Regions from separate parts of the Homo sapiens genome. Here all the other regions are reported to be linked to region 1. Evidence: microRNA targets listed by miRTarBase, many of them from high-throughput screens and not tested one by one. Region 1 holds a microRNA gene; each other region holds the end of a gene's coding sequence.
Evidence for each region. Region 1 holds the annotated microRNA hsa-miR-3190-3p (UGUGGAAGGUAGACGGCCAGAGA, at 1,286-1,308, opposite strand). A microRNA usually pairs through its seed, bases 2 to 8, with sites in the 3' UTR of a target mRNA and lowers its output. Matches are read on the target gene's strand: a 7mer-m8 pairs with bases 2 to 8, a 7mer-A1 pairs with bases 2 to 7 and ends in A, and an 8mer does both.

Region 1 (5,000 bases):
CCGCCCCCGCCGCCCCCACCCTGCTGCCCGCTGCCTACCTCTGCGCCCCCACCGCCCCACCCGCCGTCACCGCCGCCCTGGGGGGTTCCCGCTGGCCTGGGGGTCCCCGCAGCCGGCCCCGAGGCCCGCGCCCGGACGGTGAGTGCCCGCCCCGCCCCCGGGGTGATAGGAGCCGGGAAGAGAGAGGGCTGGAGACTCGGAGGAACTGGAGAAGTGGGAGAGGACGGGGGGAGGTGGCGGGCCCAGCCGGGCCACTGGGAGGGTGTGGCCAATGTGGTCTTTGTGTTGCAAGAAGCAGGAAGACGGAGGCTGGGGGTGGAGGGGGAGGTCAAGTGGGAAGTCCCTCCTGGAATCTGACTGCAGTCCCCGAATTGCAGCCCACTGTCTCTTCCGGGCCTGGGGCAACAGCTGCATCCCAGCTCCCCTCCCCCAGTCTGGGTCCTCTAGACCCCCTGGAGGATTCCTGTTGCAGGGAGAGTGGGCCGAGCGGGAGGACTGTCAACTCTGGCCTCTGGGGAGGGGTCGAGAGGCCTTTTGCTTTTATTTGCATCTCTTTGGCCAGGGGCTGTCCTCAGCAGTCCCGGCGGAGGAAGGAGAGGGGGAGGGGCCATTGTGTTGGGAAGTCCCCTCGGGGAGGTGGGGGAGTCTTGGGGAGGGAAGGGTTAAAGGTCCCCTGCCTGATGGGCTGTTAACCCTGTGGTGCCCGTGGAGCCCCATCCCTGCCGGCAGGCGCTCTAGGGAAAGTGTGTCCTGGTTTCCCATCCCCCATCTTGTCCCGGCAGCCCAAGGGGAGCGAGGAAAGAGAAAACTTCCCTAACTCAGTTCCTGGAAGCCCTGGAAGGGGACACCGATTTCAAGGCCAAGGTCACAGATGTGGAAACTGAGGCCCTGGCTGTAGGCCTTAGGGAACCCTCAGGCCAGGACCTGGTGGGACGGGAGGGCAGGAGCCTCCTAGGGCGCTCAGAAGTGGGGGGGGGGGGGGGGCAGGAAGGCATCTCCCGCGTCCCAGCCCCCCAGGCCCGCGCTCTGAAGCTGCCACAGTCTCTGGCCTTCTGGTCTCTAGGCCTCTGCCACATCCGGAGGTGTGGCTTCCCTGTGGTTGGACACGAGAGGGCAGGAGACCTGAGGCTTGTGATCTGGGTGGGGTCAGTCACTGTATCCCTGTGTGACCTTGGGATACTCCCTAAGGGCGGGCCTCAGTTTCCCTGCCTGTCACATGGAAAAGGCAAAATGTGGCCCCTTTGGAAAATAGAGGTCGTTAAGCCTGACCACCCCCGGGGTCACCTCTCTGGCCGTCTACCTTCCACACTGACAAGGGCCGTGGGGACGTAGCTGGCCAGACAGGTGACCCCAGAGCGGCGTCCCCAGGTACTTCTTGCTTTCTGGTGCCTGTGGAGGAGAAGCTGAGAAATTGACTCACTAGCGATGGGATCACTAGAAATGAGGCGGGGAGCAGTGGCTGGGAAAGAGGGGAGCAGGCCGAGACACCTCGAGGCCTGGAGGGGTGGTGGGTGCTGACCGCGCCCCTCTGCCTCTCCAAGGTCCTCAGCCCTCGCTCTCGCTGGCGGAGCAGCACCTGGAGTCGCCCGTGCCCAGCGCCCCGGGGGCTCTGGCGGGCGGTCCCACCCAGGCGGCCCCGGGAGTCCGCGGGGAGGAGGAACAGTGGGCCCGGGAGATCGGGGCCCAGCTGCGGCGGATGGCGGACGACCTCAACGCACAGTACGAGCGGCGGGTGAGTGCTGGGGGTGGGGTAGACGGCAGGTGGGACTTCCGCCGGAGGAGGGGGCGGCAGGCGGCCCCCGCCAGATGTGCGGCAGCTGCTGCCCTGCGCGGCTGGGTCGCTCCGCGGACAGGCAGGTGGGGGGTAAGTGGGTGGGGGGGAATCGCGCGCCCGCAGAGCCGCCCAAGGACTCCGCGCCGCGGCTGGCATAGCCGGAGCCCGAGCCAGGGCCAGGGCCAGGGCCAGGGACTAGGCCGCCGAGGAGTGGAGCTGCGCGCCCGTGGCCCGCGGCCGCGGGGACTGAGGGCGGCGCTGGGCGGCGCGGCTCATATATCCCGGGCTATTTATAGCCGGTGAGTCAGCAGCCGCGCCGCGCCCGCCCCCTGCCGTCCCTCTCGCGCGGCCCGCAGCGCCACACAGTTTCCCGGGCGCCGGGGCGGGCCGGGGACCGCAGGGGTGGGCTCGCAGCCCCGCCCCGCGGGAGGCCCCGCCCCCCAGCCCCTGGCACGGCCTCGATTTTTTAAAACAAATATTCGAAGCCCACAGCAGAGAATGGGAAATCACAAACATCATGCGCCCACCAGGCAGCTCTGTTCAGTTTGAACATTACACCCGCATTGCTTGCTTATTAAGAAACCAAACAAAACCGCAGAAACGCATGTGGTGAAGCTCCTTACTCTCCCCATCCCTTCCCCCTCCTTGCATCCAAAGGAAATCTCTCGAGTTGGCCTCTCTCAACCCCTGCAGGTGTTGCTTTTACTCCGTATTTACCAGGCCAGAACCAGGGCTTAGAATCATGGAGCATTCTTAGCTTAGCGTATATGACATAGTTTTTGTTTCTCCCCAGAATTCCTTTTTCCCTCAATATTAGGCTTCAGATTCACCATATGGGCAAAAGAGCTTCCATTCATCTATGTTCAGCCAGGCACGGTGGCTCACTCCTGTAATCCCAGCACTTTGGGAGGCGGAGATAGAAGGACGCTTGAGCCCAGGAGTTCCAGACCAGCCTGGGCCACATAATGAGATCCCCGTTGCTACAAAAAATACAAAAATTAGCCGGGTGTGGTGGCGCGGGCCTGTAGTCTCAGCTACTTGGGAGGCTGAGGTGAAAGGGTCCCTTGAGCCAAGGAAGTCGAGGCTGCACTGAGCCATGAAGGGTCACTGAACTCCAGCCTGGGGGACAGAGCAAGACCATCTCAAAAAAGAAACAACAAATACAGCCATTTTCGGCCTGGTGCAGTGGCCCACGCCTGTAATCCCAGCCCTTTGGGAGGCGGAGGCAAGTGGCTCACTTGAGGTTGGGAGTTTGAGACCAGTCTGGCCAACATGGTGAAACCTCGTCTCTACTAAAAATACAAAAATTAAGGCCGGGCGTGGTGGCTCATGCCTGTAATCCCAGCACTTTGGGAGGCTGAGGAGGGCGGATCACCTGAGGTCGGGAGTTCGAGACAAGCCTGACCAACATGAACAAACCCCGTCTCTACTAAAAATACAAAATTAGCCAGGCGTGGTGGCACATGCCTGTAATCTCAGCTACTCGGGAGGCTGAGGCAGGATAATTGCTTGAAACCGGGAGGCAGAGGTTGCGGTGAGCCGAGATCGTGCCATTGCACTCCAGCCTGGGCAACAACAGCGAAAATCTGTCTCAAAAAAAAAAAAAGAAACAAAAAGTAGCTGAGCATGGTGGCACACGCCAGTAATCCCAGCTACTTGGGAGACTGAGGCAGGAGAATCTCTTGAACCCAGGAGGTGGAGGTTGCAGTGAGCCGAGATCAGGAGATCATGCCACTGCACTCCAGCCTGGAGGACAGAATGAAACTCTGTCTCAAAAAAAAAAAAAAAAAAAGTCATTTTCACTGCTACATAGTATTCTGTTGGATAAACATAGTATCCTTATTCATTTTCTCATTGATGGATATTTAGGATAGATATGTATTTTTATTTTATGTTTAGAGACAGGGTCTCACTGTCTCCCAGGCTGGAGTGCCGTGGTTCAATCACAGCTCCCTGCAGCCTCCAACTCCTGGGTTTAAGGGATCCTCCCGCCTCAGCCTCCCAAGTAGCTGGGACCACAGGCAGATCCACCATGCCTGGCTAATTTTTATTTTATTTTTTTGTAGAGATCAGGTCTTTCTGTGTTACCCAGGCTGGTCTCAAACTCCTGGCCTCAAGTGATCCTCCTGCCTTGGCCTCCCAAATTGCTGGAATTATGGGTCTGAGCTACCTCACCCAGACTATTTTTAAATGTATTTCAGATTTTATTTTATTTATTTATTTTTTGAGACAGAGTTTCGCTCTTGTTGCCCAGGTTGGAGTGCAATGGTGCAATCTCGGCCCATTGCAACCTTCACCTCCCGGGTTCAAGTGATTCTCCTGCCTCAGCCTCCCAAGTAGCTGAGATTACAGATGCCTGCCACCATGCCCAGCTAATTTTTGTATTTTTAGTAGAGACGGGGTTTCACTATGTTGACCAGGCTGATCTTGAATTCCCGACCTCAGGTGATCCACCCACCTCGGCCTCCCAAAGTGCTGGGATTACAGGTGTAAGCCACTGCGCCCGGCCATTATTTATTGCCTTTTTTCCTCTCCCAATCATGCATATTTCCGGGTGCGCTCTTGTGTTTCTAGAGTAGGTACCTGGGTGGTCTGCCCACCATCCACCTTACTAGGTGATTGCTAGCTTTCTCACCAGGTGGCACCCACAGCAGTGTGACAGTGGTGGGTTTTGTAACTTACACCAATCCGATGTGCCCCCTTTGCCACCATCTCCTGGCCCCAAGAGTTGCTAGGGAGTGTTGAGGAGGCTGGGCTGGTACCAGGCGACTCACTACCAGGTAGCATGAGGACGATGAGGATCATTTAACCTTCTGTAAAGTGAGTTTCTCCTTCCCCTGCACCTGAAGGGAAGGAGGTTAGGTGGTCCCCACTTAGCACAGAGCCTGCCTGTGGAGCTACAGGGAGTGGCAGAGGATTGCAGCTCTCTGTACACTTAAAAAAAATTTTTTTTTTGACACGGAGTCTTGCTCTGTTGCCCAGGCTGGAGTGCAGTGGTGCAATCTCGGCTCACTGCAACCTCCGCCTCCCGGGTTCAAGCGATTCTCCTGCCTTGGCCTCCCTAGTAGCTGGGAATACAGGTGTGTGCCACCAGGCCCAGCTAATTTTTGTTGTTTTAGTAGAGACGGGGTTTCCCCATGGTGGCCAGGCTGGTCTTGAACTCCTGACCTCAGGTGATCCACCTGCCTTGGCCTCCCAAAGTGCTGGGATTACAGGCGTGAGCCAC
Region 2 (5,000 bases), not on the chromosome of region 1:
ACTAGAAATGAGAAGACCAGTTAGGCACACATGTAGCTGTTCAGTCGAGTGTTAACTACGTTCATGACAATTGGAATAGAAAGAATCAAAAGATGTTGAATTTTGATAATGCAGATTTATGCAGAAGAGAAATTTAAGAAAATCAGGCAGAACTATCTCCAGTTTAAATAGATCAATTTGTATACATTAGTATTGATTAAATGGATTTCAATTTTAACTCTTTAAGAAAACCAAACAAAATTTCAATGTTAATTCCAATTCAGTTCTATTTGCCAAAAAAAGCTACCATATATTTAATGTTTTAATAAAAATTAAACATTAGAAAGTAAAGAGCAATAAAATACTTAATAACTATTGTGCCTATAATGCTAGTGCTATTGCCTTTATTATAATAACTAGATTTGCTATTTAAAAACTGAGTGGTATCATAATACATATTGATAAAATAGGATTATTACACTCTAGAGCAATAAAAACTAATTGACCTAAGGCATATATTATTTATTTAGAAATAAATCTAGCTGCTTTCTCCCTAGTATAGATTTAGATTCATGGATTTTAAATTTACTACTGATGCTTTCAGAAACAAAAATTAAATTAATTGGATGGTTAGAGTTTTTGTTGTTTGTTGTTTTAATTTCTGAAATGAGTGTGTTCTTTTCTTCTGCAGGAGACTTTTTCTTCATCCAAAACCTCAAGAACTTTATGTCTGTTTTCATGACTCAGTCACAGAAATTGCCATTGAAATAGCTTTTAAATTGTTCTTTGGGTTAACCTTGTAGCTGTGCTTTCTTGATGCGTAGAAACACGTGCATGGAGGATCAAACACTGTCAGAATTGCTGAAATCAATACACAAAGAGATAAAGTTTAGCTTCTTTTTACTATTCAATATTGAACATAATATTGTTAAATATTGAGATGAAATGCTGTTGGATTTGATACATTAAATCTTAATGTAATATTGTAAGACTTTTGAGAATATACTTGATTAAAATGTGAAAGAAGGGATTGTTAACTTATTGCTATTTTGGTATATAATGTTAATTTATTGACTAGTTTGAAATAATGTGAAGTGTTTTTTATATCAGATTAATATAGGAAATGTTTATTCTTGAAAAATACTCAATTTGTTGTTGTTTATTTTTCTCAAAATTCATACTGATATCTGATGAAATGATTATGAAATTGGGAGCAGGTGACCAGGTGCTGTAACTAAGTAGTGCTATGACCATGAGCAAGTTTTTGTACCTCTCTAAGCTCAGAGTTTTCATGTAAAATGAGATGATTGCATTGAGGTTTCAAAAATACCTCTTAAGTAAAATGTGCTTTTATTTTATTTTAGTTTTAGTTTTAGTTCTGGGGTACATGTGCAGGATGTGCAGGTTCGTTACATAGGTAAACATGTGCCATGGCGGTTTGCTCCACCTATCAACCCATCACCTAGGTATTAAGCCTAGCATGCATTAGCTATTTTTCCTAATACTCTCCCTACCCCCACAACAGGCCCTGGTGTGCATTGTTCCCCTCCCTTTGTCCATGTGTTCTCATGGTCAGCTCCCACTTATAAGTGAGAACCTACAGTGTTTGGTTTTCTGTTCCTGCATTAGTTTGCTGAGGATAATGGCTTCCAGCTTCATCCATGTCCCTGCAGAGGACATGATCTCATACCTTTTTGTGGCTGCATAGTATTCCATGGTGTATGTGTACCACATTTTCTTTATCCAGTCTATTGCTGATGGGCATTTGGGTTGATTCCATGTCTTTGCTATTGTAAATAGTGCTTCAATGAACATATGTGTGCATATATATTTGTAATTGAATGATTTATATTACTTTGAGTATAAACCCAGTAATGGGATTGCTGGGTCAAATGGCATTTCTGGTTCTAGATCTTTGAAGAATCACCACACTGTCTTCCACAATGGTTGAACTAATTCACATTCCCACCAACAGTGTAAAAGCGTTCCTATTTCCTCACAGCCTCGCCAGCATCTGTTATTTCTTGACTTTTTAATAATAGCCACTCTGACTGGTGTGAGATGATATCTCATTGTGGTTTTGATTTGCATTTCTCTAACAATCAGTGATATTGAGCTTTTTTTTCATATGTTTGTTGGCTGCATGAATGTCTTCTTTTGAGAAGTGTCTGTTCATGTCCTTTGCCCAGTTTTTAATGCGGTTCTATTTTTTCTTGTAACTTGGTTTGAGTTCCTTGTAGATCCTGGATATCAGATCATTGTTGGATGAATAGATTGCCAAAATTTTCTCCCACTCTGTAGGTTGCCTGTTCACTCTGATGATAGTTTCTTTTGCTGTGCAGAAGGTCTTTAATTTAACTAGATCCCATTTGTCAAGTTTTGCTTTTGTTGCAGTTGCTTTTGTGATTTCATCATGAAATCTTTGCCCATGCTCATGTCTTAAATGGTATTGCCTAGATTTTCTTCTAGGGATTTTATAGTTTTGGGCTTTACATTTAAGCCTTTATTCTATCTTAATTTTTTGTATAAGGTATGAGGAATGGGTCCAGTTTCTATTTTCTGCATATGGATAGCTAGTTCTCCCAGCACCATTTATTAAATAAGGAATCCTTTCCCCATTGCTTGTTTTTCTCAGGTTTGTTGAAGATCAGATGGTTGTAGATGTGCAATCTTATTTCTGAGTTCTCTATTCTATTCCATTGGTCTATGTGTCAGTTTTTGTACCAGTACCATGATGTTTTGGTTATTGTACCCTTACAGTACAGTTTGAAGTTTGGTAGTGTGATGCCTCCAGCTTTGATCTTTTGGCTTAGGATTGCCTTGGCTATACAGGCTCTTTTTTTGGTTCCATATAAATTTTAAAATAGTTTTTTCTAATTCTATGAAGAATATCAATGGTAGTTTAATGGGAATAACATTGACTCTATAAATTACTTTGGGCAGTATGGCTATTTTCATGATATTGATTCTTACTGTCTGTGAGCATGGAATATTTTTCCATTTGTTTGTGTCCTCTCTGGTTTCCTTGAGCCGTGGTTTGTAGTTCTCCTTGAAGAGGTCCTTCACTTCCCTTGTTAGCTGTATTCCTAGGTATTTTATTCTCTTTGAAGCAATTGTGAGTAGGAGTTCATTCATGATTTGGATCTCTGCTTGCCTGTTGTTGGTGTATAGGAATGCTGGTGACTTCTGCACAATGATTTTGTATCTTGAGACTTTGCTGAAGTTGCTTATCAGCTTAAGAAGCTTTTGGGCTGAGACAATGGGGTTTTCTAGATATAGGATAATGTCCTCTGCAAACAAAGACATTTTGACTTCCTCTCTTCTTCTTTGAATACCCTTTATTTCTTTCTCTTGCCTGATTGCCCTGGCCAGGACTTCCAATACTATGTTGAATAGTGGTGAGAGAGGTCATCCTTGTCTTGTGCTGGTTTTCAAGGGGAGTGCTTCCAGCTTTTGCCCATTCGGTATGATATTGGCTGTGAGTCTGTCATAAATGGCTCTTATTATTTTGAAGTATGTTCCTTCAATACCTAGTTTATTGAGAGTTTTTAACATGAAAGGATGTTGAATTTTATTGAAGGTGTTTTCTGCATCTATTGAGTTAATCATGTGGTCTTTGTCTTTAGTTCTGTTTGTGTGATGAATTAAGTTTATTGATTTGCATATGTTGAACCAGCCTCACATCCCGGGAATGAAGCCAACTTGATCGTGGTGGATAAGCTTTTTGATGTGCTGCTGGATTCAGTTTGCCAGTGTTTTATTGAGAATTTTTACATTGATGTTCATCAGGGATATTGGTCTGAAGTTTTCTTTTTTTGTTGTATCTCTGCCAGGTTTTGATATCAGGATGATGCTGGCCTTATAGAATGAGTTAGGGAGGAGTCTCTCCTTTTCATTTGTTTGGAATAGTTTCAGAAGAAGTGGTATCAGCTTCTTTTTGTATTTCTGGCAGAATTCAGCTGTAGATCCATCTGGTCCTGGGCTTTTTTTGGTTGGTAGCCTATTAATTACTGCCTCAATTTCAGAACTTGTTATTGGTCTATTCAGTGATTCAACTTCTTCCTGGTTCAGTCTTGGGAGGGTGTATGTGTCCAGGAATTTATCCATTTCTTCTAGATTTTCGAGTTTATTTGCACCGAGCTGTTATAGTATTGTCTGATGGTTGTTTATATTTCCATGGGATCAGTGGTAATATCCCCTTTATCATTTTTTATTGTGTCTATTTGGTTCTTCTCTCTTTTCTTCTTTATTAGTCTAGCTAATAGTCTATTTTGTTAATATTTTCAAAAAAAAGCAGCCCCTGGATTCATTTATTTTTTGAAGGGTTTTTCATGTCTCTAGCTCCTTCATTTCCACTCTGATTTTGGTTACTTTTTGTCTTCTGCTGGCTTTTGGGTTTGTTTGCTCTTGGTTCACTAGTTCTTTTAGTTGTGATACTAGGGTGTCGATTTGAGATCTTTCTAGCTTTTTGATGTGGGCATTTAGTGCTATAAATTTCCCTCTTAACACTGCTTTAGCTATGCCCCAGAGATTCTGGTACATTGTCTCTTTGTTTTCATTGGTTTCAAAGAACTTCTTGATTTCTCTCTTAATTTCATTATTTACCCAGGAGTCATTCAGGAGCAGGTTGTTCAATTTCCACGTAGTTTTGTGGTTTTGAGTGACTTTCTTACTCTTGAGTTCCAATTTGATTGCGCTGTGATCTGAGAGACTGTTTGTTATTACTTCAGTTCTTTAGCATTTGCTGAGGAGTGCTTTACTTCTAATTGTGTGATCAATTTTAGAGTAAGTACCATGTGGCACTGAGAAGAATATATATTCTGTTGTTTGGGGGTGGAAAGATGTCTAGATATTTATCAGGTCCCACTTGATCCAGAGCTGAGGTCAAGTCCTGAATAACTTTGTTAATTTTCTGTCTCGATGATCTAATATTGACAGTGGGGTGTTAAAGTCTCCCACTATTATTGTGTGGAAATCTAAGTCTCTTTTTGGGTCTCTAAGAACTTGTTTTATGAATCTGA
Region 3 (5,000 bases), not on the chromosome of region 1:
AACGACATGCATTCATGAAATTCTAGCACATCACCAATTATCTTGTACATATTATTTCCTCTGCATAGGGTAGCCTTGGCTCTTCCCTCTTAGCCTGAAAAGATCCTTTGAGACTTTTTAAACATTTTTTTAAAAATAGAGACAAGGTCTTGCTATGGCCCAGGCTGGTCTTGAATTCCTGGACTCCAGTGATCCTCCCACCTTGGCCTCCTAAAGTGCTGGGACTACAGGCATAAGCCACCGTGGCCCAGCCGATCCTTTGAGATTTAGTTCAAATGAAGGCAAGAAAGGGTAGTGATTAAAAAGTAGGTGTTTGAACTGAAGCTCTGCACTAGGTCCTCAGGCAAGCCTCATTACCTGAGTTTTCTTTTTTTTTTTTTTGAGACACAGTCTTGCTCTGTCACCCAGGCTGGAGTACAGTGACACGATCTTGACTCACTACAGCCTCCACCTCCCGGGTTCCAGCGATTCTCCTGCTTCAGCCTCCCGAGTAGCTGGGACTACAGGCATGTGCCACCATGCCGGGCTAATTTTTGTATTTTTAATAGAGATGGGATTTCACCATGTTGGCCAGGCTGGTCTCGAACTCTTGACCTCAGGTGATCCAGCCGCCTTGGCCTCCCAAAGTGCTGGGAATACAGGCATGAGCCACCACACCCAGCCACCGGAGTTTTCTTTAAAAGAACACTGTAGAGTTTTTTTTTTTTTTTAGTGTTGTAATAAATGAGACAAGATACAAAGCAGTTAGCATAGTACCTACCTCACAACAAAAGTGCTCAATATATGATAACCATAATAAATACAACACCTCAAAGTCTTCCCTAACATTCCCAGGGAGAATACTATTTATTTGTGCTTCCAAATATTATGTTTATACTTCTATTTGAGCATTTGTCACAAATTATATTATTTGCCCACATAAATGTGCATTCTTGGGAGCTAGAATGGTGCCCTATGCAATGTTTTATTGTCAGTGCCTAGCAAGTGCCCATCAATTTGTAAGTACTCAATATTTTTTTGATGAATGAATTATAGACAATAAGATATAGGGTGGCGTTCTCCAATTTTAACATGCAAGCTTTTAGAGTTTCTTTTTTTTTGAGACGGAGTCTCGCTCTATCGCCCAGGCTGGAGTGTAGAGGCGCAATCTTGGCTCACTGCAACCTCCGCCTCCCAGATTCAAGCAATTCTCCTGCCTCAGCCTCCTGAGTAGCTGGGATTACAGGAGTGCGCCACTATGGCCAGCTAATTTTGTATTTTTAGTAGAGATGGGGTTTCACCATGTTGGCCAGGCTGGTCTTGAACTCCTGACCTCAGATGATCCGCCCGCCTCGGCCTCCCAAAGTGCTGGGATTACAGGCATGAGCCATCGCGCCTGGCTGAGAATTTCTTTAAAATGCAGCTTCCTCCTAACTCCAGAGACTGATTTACTAGGATCTGCATTTTAGCAAGCTACCCTCCTATCTCACACACACATTTTGGTGCAATGGTCTTTGCAATATACTTTGAGAAACATTGTATAAAGCATGACTTATGGAAATAGTACTTTGTCTTAAATAAAAATATTAGAAAAGTATAAACAATCCTAATAAACAAATGTATTATTGTCCCTTGTGCTATAGATAAAGAAAGGGAGAACAATAAGCCAATTATAAGCACACTTACATTTTTACATGTTAACTCTGTTATAGTCAGGCATGTCACCTACATTTGGAACTTAAGATTTTCAACTCCTAAATTCAGGTGTCATTTGCAAGTAGATATTAGTAGAACAGATCATATTCATTCTCTTCATGGTAATAATGGTATAATTGGCTAATTTATTTTGATTGAGATGGAGACACTATTTAGGCTTTATAGTATTAGCTGGTGTTCATGTGGTCAGCTTTTGACATGTCCTGCCCCTCAGCCTATGTATGTTACAATTGTTTTTGTATCCCTCATTTTCTACATAGGATAAAACAAGCTGGTATGCTAGTGTAAAGGGGGAGGCATTAATAGCCTTGTGTAGAAAGTCCTTAGTTCCAATTAAAACAATTTAAATTATAAAATTGTGCACAGAGAGACCAGAGAGCTGATAATTGATCTTTATTATACAGAAATGTGAAGGCCATAAGCATTAAATGAGAAGGAGTTTGGCAGTGAACATTATGCAGATTCAAACTGAAGGTATCCTCGTCTTACTGAGATATAAAAATAAACACTAAGAGTTGCAAGAAAGAACTCAATTCAACTTCTATCTCCCAATCAAGCTATAACTTTCCACAGGAAAACCTGGTTTCAATTCATGCCGAATTGTTCAAAGAAAAGAAAAAGCTAAATCAGTTAGAGACAACACATGGACTGGCTTTTGTCCTATTAGAGAGCCAGACTGAAGCTGTATTCAGCCTCACATTTAGAGACTGTTTCCTATTACAATTTATATCTCTATTTGCCTAAGAGATACCTAAAGTGAAAAACAAAAAAATGTTAACTGAGCTGGGGCATTTTTGTGGGGCTAAGTAGATTTGGCAGAGGAGAGAAATGAATAAATAATTCATTTAATTATTTCTAATCAAGAGGATTTAATGTCAGGTCTGGGTCATCTGTATTAACCCTTTGACAGTTTGTTGTTCTATAATGGTCAAGAAGCACTATCCCATTAAAGTATAATAAATGCTGAACATCAGCACAGCTCAGTGCACATCCTCTTTATATCCTCAAATACTGGACTTTATATCAGCATGCTTTCAATACCAAATTAGCCCTTTAAATAGGATCTTTCTTAATAAAGCTTCTCATTGCCCTCACTACTGAAGTAAAAAACGTGTTAGAGATTTGGCCAGAAAGATGGTTTTACTGAAATAAGACTGATGACTAGGAGCACATCTATGGATTAAATATAGACAAAACTACTCCCAGAAACCTTAAATATAGACAGACTTTATTAATTTATGTAGGAAGCCAAAAATAGGAAATAAAAAGATCTGGAGTTCAGATATACTGATATATTCAGCAACTGAAACTTACAATTCCTTCAATTCAGTCAGAGCAGAGACATTTAAAGTAGTCTGGAGGGGTGGGTGCAGTGGCTCAAGCCAGTAATCTCAGCACTTTGGGAGGCTGAGGTGGAAGAATTGCTTGAGCCCAGGAATTCAAGACCAGCCTGGGCAACAAAGCGAGACTCTTGTCTAAAACAAACAAAAAAAAGCTGAGTATGGTGGCACGTGCCTGTAGTCCCACTTAGTTGGGAGACTGAGGCAGGAGGATCCTTGAGCCCTGGAGGTCAAGGCTGCAGTCAGCTGTGATTGCACTACTGTACTCCTGCCTGGGCAAGAGCAAGACCCTGTCTCAAAAGAAAAAAAAAAAAAAAGTGGCCTGGGGGAAACAGGACAGTCATATACCCCAAGAATGGAAATTTTCATGCCACCCCCCTTCCTTCCTTACAAATTCTAATGCTGATTGCATGAACGAGGTGTTGAGAGAGACTTTTCTTCATTTAGACATTTGCCCTAGTGAATGAGGGAGCAAGAGAATGCTAAGAGGGATGAGAGAATATATTTCTGGCTCTAGGACTTTGACATCCAGGTAATTGAATCTGGGACATTCTCATTAGGTTAGAAAAGGAAAGATGAGAAAATCACTAGCAGGATATGCAATTCCAGAGACCATCTGCTCCAAAAATTAGTTTTGTTTCTCATTGCTCCTTATTCAGCGACAGTTATTTCAATAAGCTACATTATTTAGCAGAGTCTGAGAGACAAAGGCTGTGAAAACATGTATTTATGATAGAAAACAAACTCAGAAAAATATAATAGATAGTTCACTTTTTATCTCATTCACATTCTATAGCTGGAGAACTCAAAATCCCATTTAGATATTTCTGCTTATCCAAAAGCACACTGGGTGAAACTAAACCACCAAATGGGAGAAAATGTTCATTGGGTGTGTGTGGCTTCACCCAGTTTATTTACCTATGGAGTGGAAGTGTAGGGAGAAATAAGGTCTGCTTATAATGGTCAAGGTCTATGGAGAAGCCCTGAAGTTGCTCTCCCCAAATCACAAGTCTGATTCAAGAAAAGGAAACAAAAATGATGAAAACATCTCATCACACAAAACTCAGTGATGGGGTCTCTGACAGTCACCAGCCAGCAGGGGAAAAGGAGAAATCCACCTGCCGGCTTTAAGATTTATTGAAGGCTGCCAGCACAGCCCAGATCATTTCTGTGGCACTAGGCTTTGTCCCTTCCACTTCAGGGTCCAGTTCTACTAAGTCCTTGGCTCGATTCATTGCCACATCATACTTGTCATCTGTCAGAGAGGAGAAGACATTCTCTAGCACATCAGAGGAGTGGGCTAGCACCAGGAGTGCTAGTGTTCGCTTGTCCATACGCTGAGGGTCATTTACCCACCGCTCTAGTACACTATCTTGAAGTTTTTTCACTAGTCGCTGTTTCTCTGTTGTATTGGTCACTGGATGAGTAGTCATGTCAAATAGCAGGAAATTCTGCTTCTCAGTGGTTAGAATACCTTTCTCTACTAGGTTCTTTGCGATGCGCTCTCGTACATTTCTCAGCTGGTACTGTAATTTGAAGGGGTTCCAGGTCTCACCTATGAGAAAAAAGAAATAGGACATAATGAACTGAAAGAGAAAAGCAAAATGAAACATGTAGTTGTTTGGAAACTTGAATGGCTAAAATGTTTAAAAGCATAATCTTCATTCCTCAATTCATTTAATCCTTAGTCCTTTATAATCTGGCTTTGACTCCAACCACATTTCACATTAAACCAGCTTCAAAAAATGTCACCAAGGACTTCCATATTGCTAGAGCTTATAGACTTTATTTCTGTTCTTATGTGACCTCTGTGACACTGTAATTATTTATGTATTTTTCAAATTCTATTTAGGACACCAGTCTCTCCCAGATGATTTCTACTCTATATTGTGGAAGTTCTATTTGCTGGTGAAGCTAAGAGGACTGAGGTTCCCTACCCTATTTGTAGAGCAGAAGCTCTATCCC

Region 2: miRTarBase lists INTU as a target of hsa-miR-3190-3p. Seed matches in the 3' UTR shown: 8mer at 1,915-1,922.
Region 3: miRTarBase lists GOLPH3L as a target of hsa-miR-3190-3p. Seed matches in the 3' UTR shown: 7mer-m8 at 3,961-3,967 and 7mer-m8 at 3,108-3,114.

Annotation. Positions count from the first base shown.
Region 1 is chr19:47,223,296-47,228,295 of GRCh38, reverse strand. It overlaps MIR3190 (microRNA 3190), which reads right to left and starts at 1,354; the gene lies at 1,275-1,354. BBC3 (BCL2 binding component 3) reads left to right here. Exons shown (of 4, transcript NM_014417.5): 2 at 1-138; 3 at 1,542-1,732. It overlaps MIR3191 (microRNA 3191), which reads left to right and starts at 1,277; the gene lies at 1,277-1,352. RefSeq lists silencers at 1-239, 1,460-1,759, 2,129-2,295, 1,790-2,349 and enhancers at 272-1,214, 2,423-2,922.
Region 2 is chr4:127,715,655-127,720,654 of GRCh38, forward strand. It overlaps INTU (inturned planar cell polarity protein), which reads left to right. Exons shown (of 16, transcript NM_015693.4): 16 at 671-5,000. The coding sequence ends at 782. Among named protein-coding and RNA genes, the nearest start is that of SLC25A31, 12 kb to the right of the region's middle.
Region 3 is chr1:150,644,159-150,649,158 of GRCh38, forward strand. GOLPH3L (golgi phosphoprotein 3 like) reads right to left here. Exons shown (of 5, transcript NM_018178.6): 5 at 2,072-4,590. The coding sequence ends at 4,163. Among named protein-coding and RNA genes, the nearest start is that of ENSA, 17 kb to the left of the region's middle. RefSeq lists an enhancer at 2,707-3,208.